Homo sapiens: one gene and its partners. The protein of the gene in region 3 purifies or fractionates together with the protein of the main gene of each other region. This does not show direct contact. Each region holds a gene or a part of one and is shown on either strand. Other genes may lie near its edges. The genes, in order: PIGR, ALDH3A1 and UCP2.

Region 1 (3,649 bases), on a different chromosome or scaffold from region 3:
CCTCCTTGGCCTCCCAAAGTGCTGGCATTACAGCTGTGAGCCAGCATCCAGCCATCCATTGTTTTTTCAAACAATAACACCACTTTCGTAAGGTGTTACATGTTTGCACTTGCCATGTGTTATTTCCTTATATTTCTAAAAGCACTTTGTAGATGATTTTCTTTTCTTTTTTTTCCCCCAGATAAAAATATTGAGAGCCAGAAAGGATAAGTGACTTCCCTCAGATTTCACAGCGGGTCATAGAGATGCTTGGTTGAAGTTAAGGTCTTTGTTATTCTCAAAGAAGATCTTTCACAGACCCCTGGCCTTGAGATTAGGAAGTGCCATTCCTGTCCCTGACTTCCAATGCTCACAGATGTGGCCTTTCAGTGTCTTCTCTGTATGACTCTTCCTCAAGGAAGTGCCAACTTTGAGAGGGACATCCCTGGGGATGAGTCTGATTTTAGTGTCCCCAGGGAGGTGAACCCTGGAGTCGGGCAGGCTGAAGGGGTGGAGCTTGGAGAGTTGGGGCCTGGCAGACACACCTGGGAAGACCGCCAGCAGGCAGGTGAGCACGAAGAGCAGCATTGCTGGTGGGTCCCGAGCGCCGCACCACTCAGGCCGACTTCTCCTGTGCAATGCTGAAAAACAATAATCACAAGGAGATGAAGCGCCCCTTGTCTTCCAAGACTAGTTGACCTTAGAGTTTCTGTGACATCTATTTGGCTTTGTATCTCCAGCAACTGACATAAATCCTGTTGAATGAATCAGTGCCTCCACTTTTTCCATAACAATTCAAAGTCTTATCATCCTTCAACACTTGTATATCCTTAATAGCTAGAAGTAGCTTTTGTCTTCTCAACTAAGCTGCAAGCTCCTTTGGGATAGAGATATTGTGTCATTTGCTCTGTTTCCCTGCCCATGAGACACAGTCCCAGGCACACCGTAAGATCTCAGGAATGGCTTGCTGGGTGATTGGTTCCTACCAATACGTGGCCCCCATCTCTCTGTTTCAGCTGCCCTCCCTACATTCCTGGGAGGTGAAGCGGGCTGACATATTTCACAGTGTGTTCAGATGAGGAAACTGAGACCCACAGAGGAGGTGTCATGATTATTAAGGCTGTAAATGTAATGATGATGGTCCTAACCCCATTGATTGCTCCCTTATTCTGTCTCAGGCACTGTGTTGAATAATTTATGTGTACTATCTCATACAGACTTGATATCAGCCCTGTGAGGTTAGTATCCTTATCCACATTCACATGGGAGGAAATGAAGGCTTCAAGGTTAAGTACTTTCCTCAAGGGCACATGGGGTTAAATGTGTGGGGGTACACAGAATGGGGGTCGGGGAAGATTTGGGCCCACCTTTGTCTGACTGCAAAGTCCATGTGCTTAACCTCTCCACTACTGTATCGCACCCCAAATACAAGAGCATGCTTTTACCTTATGCTTATTTGTGTTATTTGTAGAGACCCTGTTGCTTATGAAAGCACTACCATTTACATTATTTCATTTGAGCTTTATATGTTCCCTTGAAATAAGACAGACGGGTATAATCACAACCATTTTATGGATAAAACATTGAGGTCTTGAGATGCTGAATGATAGGCTTACGTTTTCCCAGCAACTTGGTTATGGAATTGGGGTTAAAAGCTTAGGTGTTAGGGTCTTTGTAATCCTGCCTGGTAAGGCCTGGCAGACAAAGATGAAGAATCGAAGATGAGACCACTCAGACGGAGCAGCCTGTGTGGACTTTGTCTCCACCGTGGACACAGCCCAGGGCTGAGGAGAGTTGAGGGTCCCAGGGGTCTGCCTGACAGCAGCTGTCATCAAGACCCCAACTACAGCCTAGAGGAGGAGACAGAAGTCTCCACTTTCCCAGACTTTGACAGACTTTAAACTTTGGAGTTGTCTTGACAAAGAGAGTGTTAAATGATCGTAAGTTTGGGCAGTAATGAGTGCCCATAAAGATAAGGACGCTGTAAGCAGGAGGAAGCTGGGCGTTATCTCCCAGACCTCCCTCACCACCCTGGCCCCTGCTCCTGCTCCCAGACTCCCTTCACCAGCTTGAGCCAAAGGCAATAGAGTTGTTTATCTTGGTTATTTCTTTGTTGCAGGGGAATTTCCCAGCAAGGAACCTTTTATTTCCTTGTGAATATAAAGGTATTTTGTTTCTGCAGTTCTTTGGAAGAATAAAGGGAGGGAGTGGGAACAAATATGGGTGTCAGATGGCAACGTTGAGGCTCTCTTGAGTCCGGTTAATTGCCCCAGACCTTTCTTACCAGGTCAATGATTAATGCCTGGAGTGGGGCCTTGGCCAAATACCAGTCAGCTCCAACATGGAAGCAATCAGGGGACACTAGCTGGGATGTCATCACCTGCGTGGGCACTGCAAGCTGCCATGGGAGATGCTCCCAGGTGGGAGCAGCTTTCAGGAGGCCAGGAAGTCTCAGAAACAGTTGGGATGGGCTGGCTGCAAAGTCCTGGGAGATCTACCATTTTCTACTTGTGCTGGCACAGGGTGGGTGCAGTCACAGGTGGGAGGACAAAATGCTGCCTGCTTTTAAGAACCCACACCAGCAGCAGCTGTCCTTGCTTCTTGTTCCTGTCCTCACCTCTAGATAAGCAAGCTGCCTCATATTTGCGTGAGACAGGAGTGGTCTTCCCACAAGCTGAGCTGGGGGATGCAGCCCTCCTCTGGACTTGGCCTGGGTTGCAGAGAGTCAGATGCCAGCTTCTCCAAGGTGAAGACCACCCTGACCTCTGTCCCAGACTTCTCATTTTGTGACATGTTTGGGTGGCTGTGCATGTTTGTGTAGAGAGGGGACATGTGTGTGCACCCATTACCCTCTGCATGGTCTCAAGCCAGGGATGAGAGCATCAGGCATGCACAGGCAGGTCGGGCAGATGGCAACATCAGCGGGATGCACACAGTCCAGTCCTAGATGGGATGATTGGCAGGAGAGGATACCCCTGCTTTCAGGAACAGGAGCTCTTCTTTGCCCAAAGCTAAAACTTGAAGCACAATTTCTCTAGTAGCATTTGAAAGGACCTCGAGCTTTCAGAATCATTACAGACCCCTTCCTCTCAAAACCAGAGACTTTCTTCCAAACCTGGGGATTCAAATCTCGGGAGACCTCCCCAGCCCAGGGTGGCTGGGGCTGGATTTAAAGGATTTGCTTAAGGAAGGAAGAAAAAGAACATAATGTTGGGCACCTGCTACGTGCCAAATGCTTTGCTAGGTTCTTTTCTTGTAAGACTTCATCCATCAGCACAACAACCCAAGAGATAGATGTTGTTATCCTCATGACACAGGTTGGAAATCTAAGGGTTATAGGGATTCTCGACCCCAAGACCCACAGCAGAATCCTAATTTGAGGTCACTACCCCATTATCACTCTTTAAATGAGCAAAGGGACCTGCTTTATTGGGTTTTATATATATGATATTATATCATGCATGAGGGCACGTTTTCTGGTCCTTAAACTAGCAGTTGTTTTTTCACTGCTGAGGCTAGGATGTGCTAGATCATTTTCAGTTTACTAAGTTAGTATCCCAACATATGTGTAACATATGTCCCCACAATTGTGGATTGGGGCAGGAGTGTAAGCTGTGCTGAAGGATAGTTTTTCTTTTTATAAAATGTATTTAACTAGCTCCTGTTCAGT
Region 2 (3,649 bases), on a different chromosome or scaffold from region 3:
CCCAGTGATGCGCACTCAGCAAACAGAGCTCAGCCTAGACCTCTCCCCCTCCAGGAAGCCTTCTGGGACTCCCCACACGTCTTCTGTGCATGTGGTCCCCACCCCTACCCCCATGTAAGTTTCTGCAAGGACCACTGCTCCATGAGGCAGGGGGTGTCTGTGTTACTCAGAGTGGACCCACAGCATGAGGTGCAGTCATGTGTGCTTGGAAAGCAGAGTAAGGACTGCTGCAGCCAGCAGGCCCGTGCCTCTCACCGGCAGGCCACGTCCAGGTCACAGTTCTTGTCCACGTAGCAGGGACTCTTCCCTCCCAGCTCCAGCGTGACAGGGGTCAGGTGCTTGGCAGCAGCCGTCATGATGATCTTCCCCACCCCCGTGCTGCCCGTGTACAGGATATGGTCGAACCTCTCCTTGAGCAGCTCCGTGGTCTCAGGGACACCCCCATTGATTACTGGGTACAGATCCTTCCATGCAAGGAGAGAGGGGAGGCTCAGCAAAGACCAAGCCCCTCCTCGCTCTTGCAAGTGTGGGTGAGTTGCAGTGGCCAAGACCAGCAGCCCCGAAGCTCAGCACCCCACCTTGGGCGGGGGGTAGCAGTAACTGGCAGTAGACCGCCTTTCCTGGCCCAGGGGCTCTGTTCACCCCAATGAGAGAGGGCAGCTGCTAAGAACAATCCTCAGCCCCACCAGTAGCTTGGCCCCTTGCTGCAAGAATTCACTATTTCTCACCCCCCAAAGACCTGGCCCTAGCTCAGTTATGAGGCCATGGAGTTACGAGGCCCTGGAGGGCAACTCACCTTGTCCAGGTACTGGGGGATGATGGTAGCCAGCAGGCTCGCCATGTTCTCACTCAGCTCCGAGGGCTTGAGGACCACTGAGTTCCCTGCAGAGCACACCGAGCCAGGCCTATGCCCAGGGTACTTCACCAGAGGCTCTGCCCTCCCAAGGACCACACCTGAAGCCTCCCCTCCATTGTGTGTCCTCGGGACAGTGGATGGAAGAGTTGTTAGCAAACAAGCACATGTCACGGGGCACACCCAGGAGCACGCACGGGCACATGACAGAGGGACACACACGGGCACACGCTGGCCAGAGCTGCACCACCTGGCCCTCTGAGTTGCTGAGATGTTGGAGGAAAAGCAGAAAGGGGAGAGAGGCTCTGGGGGCCCGGTTGGTAGAACAGCGCTGGCCCATTCTAGGAAGGAAGCCCTGATGCATATTAGGTGACAGAAGCTCCAGCCCCCCAACAGGGGTGGGGGAAGGCAGGCCCTCTCTGTATCACCAGGTGTGGACACCTGAGCCTGACTGGACCTCAGGCACCAAGAGGCCTGGCTAAACAGCTTGGTCCCCACAGCCTCCTGTGACAGACCCAGCAAACCCTTATCTGACCCCAGGACTCTTAACACAGGCCTGAGCCCATCCTGGCTTGGCTCCACGCTGGGGGACGGTGCTCCCCCAGCTTCCCTTCCCACAGGGCCATGCACCTGCAGCGATGGCGCCCACCATGGGCTGGATGGTGAGGTTGAAGGGGTAGTTCCAGGTGCCAATGACGAGGACCACGCCCAGTGGCTCCGAGTGGATGTAGAGCTCGTCCTGCTGAGTCTGGGGCGTCTTCTCCACGGGCTCATCCGCGGCCCACTCAGGGAGCTTCTGGATCATGTACTCGATCTCCTCTAGGACGTACACCACCTCCTCATAGTAGGCGTTCCATTCATTCTGCAGCGACAGAGCCGGAGTGAGCTTCCAGGGCCAGGGCCCGCCTGCAGCTGGGGCGAGTGGGGAGCCCCACTGCTCAGCTGCCAGGGTGATGGGGGTCACTCACCCAGCCCAGGGTGGGGGCAGCCGCAGAAGGCTCCCAGGGGAAGCAGAGCCAGGATTAGCCGTTGGACCTGTGGGTCTGAGAGGACCCCTTTCTGCCAGAGGGGGGCCCAGGTAGGTTTGCGGCCCCAGGGGAGAGAGCCGGTGAAGGGACCAGGCATGGGCAACGGAATGGATCCAGGTAGGGGGAATAGAGCCGGGCAGGGGAGAGTAGATTCAGGCAGTGGGAATGGATCCGGGGAGGGGGGGATGGATCCGGGGAGGGGGGATAGATTCGGGCACTGGGAGCTGGATCCGGGCAGGGTGGAGGGAGCCAGGCCCTTTAGTTGTCTGGAGGGGGATGCAGGACCAAGGGCTGCTGGGCGCTCAGGGCCTCCTGTGGGGAGCAGGGGTGAGAAGAGGAGATGCAGACGGCGGAAAACGCGTCTCTTTTATAAACTTGGGCTGTGAAGAGCAACACAGAAGCTGTAAAGTCAACAGAATGGGTTTCCTTGTTGTTTCTGGTTTAAGATGAGAAGTCCTGAGCCATTTCTTGAAAAGTGCAGTAGCAGGCCCGGCGCTGTGGCTCATGCCTGTAATCCCAGCACTCTGAGAGGCCGAGAACTCCTCCTGAGGAACTCCTGAGGGCAGGAGTTCAAGACCAGCCTGTCCAACATGGCGAAACCCTGTCTCTACTAAAAATACAAAATTAGCCGGGCATGGTGGTACACGCCTGTTGTCCCAGCTACTGGGGAGGCTGAGGCAGGAGAATTGCCTGAACCCGGGAGGCGGAGGTTGCAGTGAGCCGAGATCGCGCCATTACACTCCAGCCTGGGCGACAGAGCGAGACTCTGTCTCAAATAAATAAATAAAATAAAATAAAAATAAAAGTGCAGGAGCAAAGAGGGTAGTCGGTGGGAGGATGGGCTCCGGAGCGCTGGACCCCAGGCAGCATGTGGGGACAGCAGGGGGCTGCGAATGCAGAGGTGTCTGGTCTTGCTCAGGGTGAGGGACGGAACAGCCCCTGTGAGAACTGGGAGGGAGGGGAGAGCCCCCCATGCCCTCCGGGGTGCCAAGCTGCTCTGGTTCCTGGTGTGGAGAACCAAGTGGTCCTGCGTGGGGCTGAGGAATGGGGAGGACCAGAAGTTCAGGGTGTCGGGGCAGCAGGAAGTTGAAATGGGGGACGCTGCGGGCGGGACGCGGAGGCCGGGCCAGGAGGAAAAGGCCAGAGGGCGGAAGAGGCGGCGGGGGCGCGCGGGGCGCGGCGGAGGGGAGGGCGGTGCGCCCAGTCTCCGCGACCGAGGGGCCAGGTGGCCCCAAGTCCTTCCTGAACCTCTCTGGGTCGCACTCTCCCCAGCCCCTCCCCCCACGCCCCATCGCATGGCCCCGACACTGGCAGAAGGCGGCCGCCCAGCCTGAGCACCTTGTGCAGGTCTGCGGCCAGCGCGCCCACCAGCTCCTGCTCCTGCTCCTGGATCAGGCGCTGCAGCGCCTCCAGCTGCTGGATCCGGAACTGCAGCGGACGGGTCCTGCCCGAGCTGAAGGCGGCGCGGGCGCGCTTCACGGCCTCGCTGATCTTGCTCATGGCGCCTGGGGACAGAGAGCACCTGCAGCTGGCTGAGGGGCACGAGCGCGCCCTGCCTCCCACCCTGCCTGAATTCTATAGGAAGGGACTTCCCTGGGCTCGGCCTTGGGGAAAATGGCCTTTCCGCTGGAAGGTCCACTTTCTGCCTCGCCTCCTCTCCCGCCCCTCACTCAGACGCCTGGGCCCTGGCTGCCTTGCTAGCCCCTGAGAAGGTGACACCCGCCGCAACCCGAGTCCTAAGCCGAACTGCTGCTGGGGGCTCTTGGCA
Region 3 (2,985 bases):
GGTTTTGGTGAGGAGAGATGAGGTAGAAAATGAGTGCAAGCCCGCTGGCCACTGACCCCATGGCTCGCCCACAGATGCCAGCATTGGGAGCCGCCTCCTAGCAGGCAGCACCACAGGTGCCCTGGCTGTGGCTGTGGCCCAGCCCACGGATGTGGTAAAGGTCCGATTCCAAGCTCAGGCCCGGGCTGGAGGTGGTCGGAGATACCAAAGCACCGTCAATGCCTACAAGACCATTGCCCGAGAGGAAGGGTTCCGGGGCCTCTGGAAAGGTGTGTACCAGTTGTTTTCCCTTCCCCTTTTCCTCCTCCCCGATACTCTGGTCTCACCCAGGATCTTCCTCCTCCTACAGGGACCTCTCCCAATGTTGCTCGTAATGCCATTGTCAACTGTGCTGAGCTGGTGACCTATGACCTCATCAAGGATGCCCTCCTGAAAGCCAACCTCATGACAGGTGAGTCATGAGGTAGACGGTGCTGGGTCTCACCCTTCCCCCATGCCAGGAGCAGGTGCGGGGGTCTAGCTGACACCAGAAGACCACATCTTTTCATCCTATTTGCCCTTTGCAGGGAGAGTAAGATATCTCTTACTTGCCATATTGAAGCCAATTGGGATGAAGCTCCCACTTTGCACATTGAGGAACTGAGGCTAGATTGGCAAAATGACTCTTTCAGGTCCTCAGAAGATGTCTCAGCTGGAGTCCCTGTCTGTTTTTGTTTTTTTGTTTGTTTGTTTTTTGTTTTTTTTGAGATAGAGTCTCACTCTGTTACCCGTGTAATCTCAGCTCACTGCAACCTTCTCCTCCTGGGTTCAAGCGATTCTTGTGCCTCAGCCTCCCGAGTAGCTGGGATGACAGGTGTGCACCAGCACACTGGCTAATTTTTGTATTTTTAGTAGAGATGGAGTTTCACCATGTTAGCCAGGCTGGTCTCGAACTCCTGGCCTCAAGTGATCTGCCCACCTTGGCCTCCCAATGTGCTGGGATTACAGGTGTGAGCCTCTGCGCCCCATCCTCTTGTTTGTTTTTTGAGACAGGGTCTTGCTCGGTTGCCCAGGCTGGAGTGCAGTGGGGTGATTAATGGCTCATTGCAGCCTCGACCTCCCTGACTCAAGCAATCCTCCCACCTCAGCCTCCTGAGTAGCTGGGGCTGACTACAGGCATGCACACTGTGCCTGGCTAATTTTTGTATTTTGTAGAGACAGGGTTTTTGCCATGTTACCCAGTCTGGTCTTGAACTCCTGGGCTCAAGTGATCCACCCACCTCGGCCTCCAAAAGAAGTCCTGGATTACAGGCATGAGACATTGTGCCCAGCCTCTCTGTCTCTTTAAAATCATGAAAACTCGTAGCTACTTAAGTAATTCTCCTGCCTTCTGGAATGATGGGTGAAGATCTTGACTGCCTTGCCTGCTCCTCCTTGGCAGATGACCTCCCTTGCCACTTCACTTCTGCCTTTGGGGCAGGCTTCTGCACCACTGTCATCGCCTCCCCTGTAGACGTGGTCAAGACGAGATACATGAACTCTGCCCTGGGCCAGTACAGTAGCGCTGGCCACTGTGCCCTTACCATGCTCCAGAAGGAGGGGCCCCGAGCCTTCTACAAAGGGTGAGCCTCTGGTCCTCCCCACCCAGTTCAGGCCTCTTGGCTATGCATGTCTATTGTGGGTGGGAGAGAACCACCTGGAAGTGAGTAGCAGCCAAGTGTGACTATTTCTGATCCTGGTCCTGGCATTTCACCAGCATTCACCTATCCCCTTAATTCCTTCCTCCCAGAATTGCTACCATCACTGTTTATTAGGTGTTAAATGGAGACTCAAAGGGAATTCATGCTTATAGCCAAGCAGCTGTGAGCTCAGTTCATTGAGTCCTCCCAGCCTCCTTTGGGACAGAGCAACTGGGTTGGATTGAATACCAGGCCCAGTGAGGGAAGTGGGAGGTGGAGGTGCCCCCATGACCTGTGATTTTTCTCCTCTAGGTTCATGCCCTCCTTTCTCCGCTTGGGTTCCTGGAACGTGGTGATGTTCGTCACCTATGAGCAGCTGAAACGAGCCCTCATGGCTGCCTGCACTTCCCGAGAGGCTCCCTTCTGAGCCTCTCCTGCTGCTGACCTGATCACCTCTGGCTTTGTCTCTAGCCGGGCCATGCTTTCCTTTTCTTCCTTCTTTCTCTTCCCTCCTTCCCTTCTCTCCTTCCCTCTTTCCCCACCTCTTCCTTCCGCTCCTTTACCTACCACCTTCCCTCTTTCTACATTCTCATCTACTCATTGTCTCAGTGCTGGTGGAGTTGACATTTGACAGTGTGGGAGGCCTCGTACCAGCCAGGATCCCAAGCGTCCCGTCCCTTGGAAAGTTCAGCCAGAATCTTCGTCCTGCCCCCGACAGCCCAGCCTAGCCCACTTGTCATCCATAAAGCAAGCTCAACCTTGGCGTCTCCTCCCTCTCTTGTAGCTCTTACCAGAGGTCTTGGTCCAATGGCCTTTTTGGTACCTGGTGGGCAGGGGAGGAACCACCTGACTTTGAAAATGGGTGTGATCCACCTTCCACCTCCAGCATCCAATCTGAAGCCCGTGTAGGTCATCTGGTCCATTTCTCTCTAGACCCAGGCCCTGTACTAACATGGGGAGTGCAGGAGCCACCTGAGAGACAGCAGTGCCTCCCCTTCCTTTGCCGGGCCACTTGAGCTCTTACTCAGAATCTGGTACTCTAGTGCCTGCCATCCCAACCCCCCACCCCAGCCGCAGGCCTGTTTATCTGCACAACAAGAGTGCTCCTGTGTGCCCTGCATCTCCTGCAGTTCCAGAGGAACATGAGACTCTTAGATGCTGTTGACTTTATTTTATTCCATTTTACAAATGGAAGGAAGACCCACCTCCCCCAAAGTCCCAGACCTTGTGAGAACAAGTCAGTCAGCCTCCTTCCACCCTCCACAGCCACAGCCACACCCACAGAGGAAATGTTACTGAACTGGGTGGAGCAGGCCCTGACTCCACA

What was found.
Region 1: the proteins of UCP2 (region 3) and PIGR purify together in Homo sapiens (affinity purification with mass spectrometry; 2 studies listed by BioGRID and IntAct, with this or other methods). This does not show direct contact.
Region 2: the proteins of UCP2 (region 3) and ALDH3A1 purify together in Homo sapiens (affinity purification with mass spectrometry; 2 studies listed by BioGRID and IntAct, with this or other methods). This does not show direct contact.

What each region holds. Positions count from the first base shown.
Region 1 is NC_000001.11:206,939,965-206,943,613, forward strand, and holds part of PIGR (polymeric immunoglobulin receptor precursor), read right to left. Parts: intron 621-3,649; 5' UTR 568-620; coding exon 525-567; intron 1-524.
Region 2 is NC_000017.11:19,741,749-19,745,397, forward strand, and holds part of ALDH3A1 (aldehyde dehydrogenase, dimeric NADP-preferring), read right to left. Parts: exon of another isoform or gene 3,387-3,649; 5' UTR 3,382-3,386; coding exon 3,220-3,381; exon of another isoform or gene 1,822-3,219; intron 1,716-1,821; coding exon 1,484-1,715; coding exon of another isoform or gene 883-1,483; coding exon 797-882; intron 465-796; coding exon 256-464; intron 1-255. UniProt on the Homo sapiens protein: ALDHs play a major role in the detoxification of alcohol-derived acetaldehyde. They are involved in the metabolism of corticosteroids, biogenic amines, neurotransmitters, and lipid peroxidation.
Region 3 is NC_000011.10:73,974,107-73,977,091, reverse strand, and holds the end of UCP2 (dicarboxylate carrier SLC25A8), read left to right. Parts: intron 1-74; coding exon 75-269; intron 270-349; coding exon 350-451; intron 452-1,420; coding exon 1,421-1,601; intron 1,602-1,970; coding exon 1,971-2,085; 3' UTR 2,086-2,420; downstream 2,421-2,985. UniProt on the Homo sapiens protein: Antiporter that exports dicarboxylate intermediates of the Krebs cycle in exchange for phosphate plus a proton across the inner membrane of mitochondria, a process driven by mitochondrial motive force with an overall impact on glycolysis, glutaminolysis and glutathione-dependent redox balance.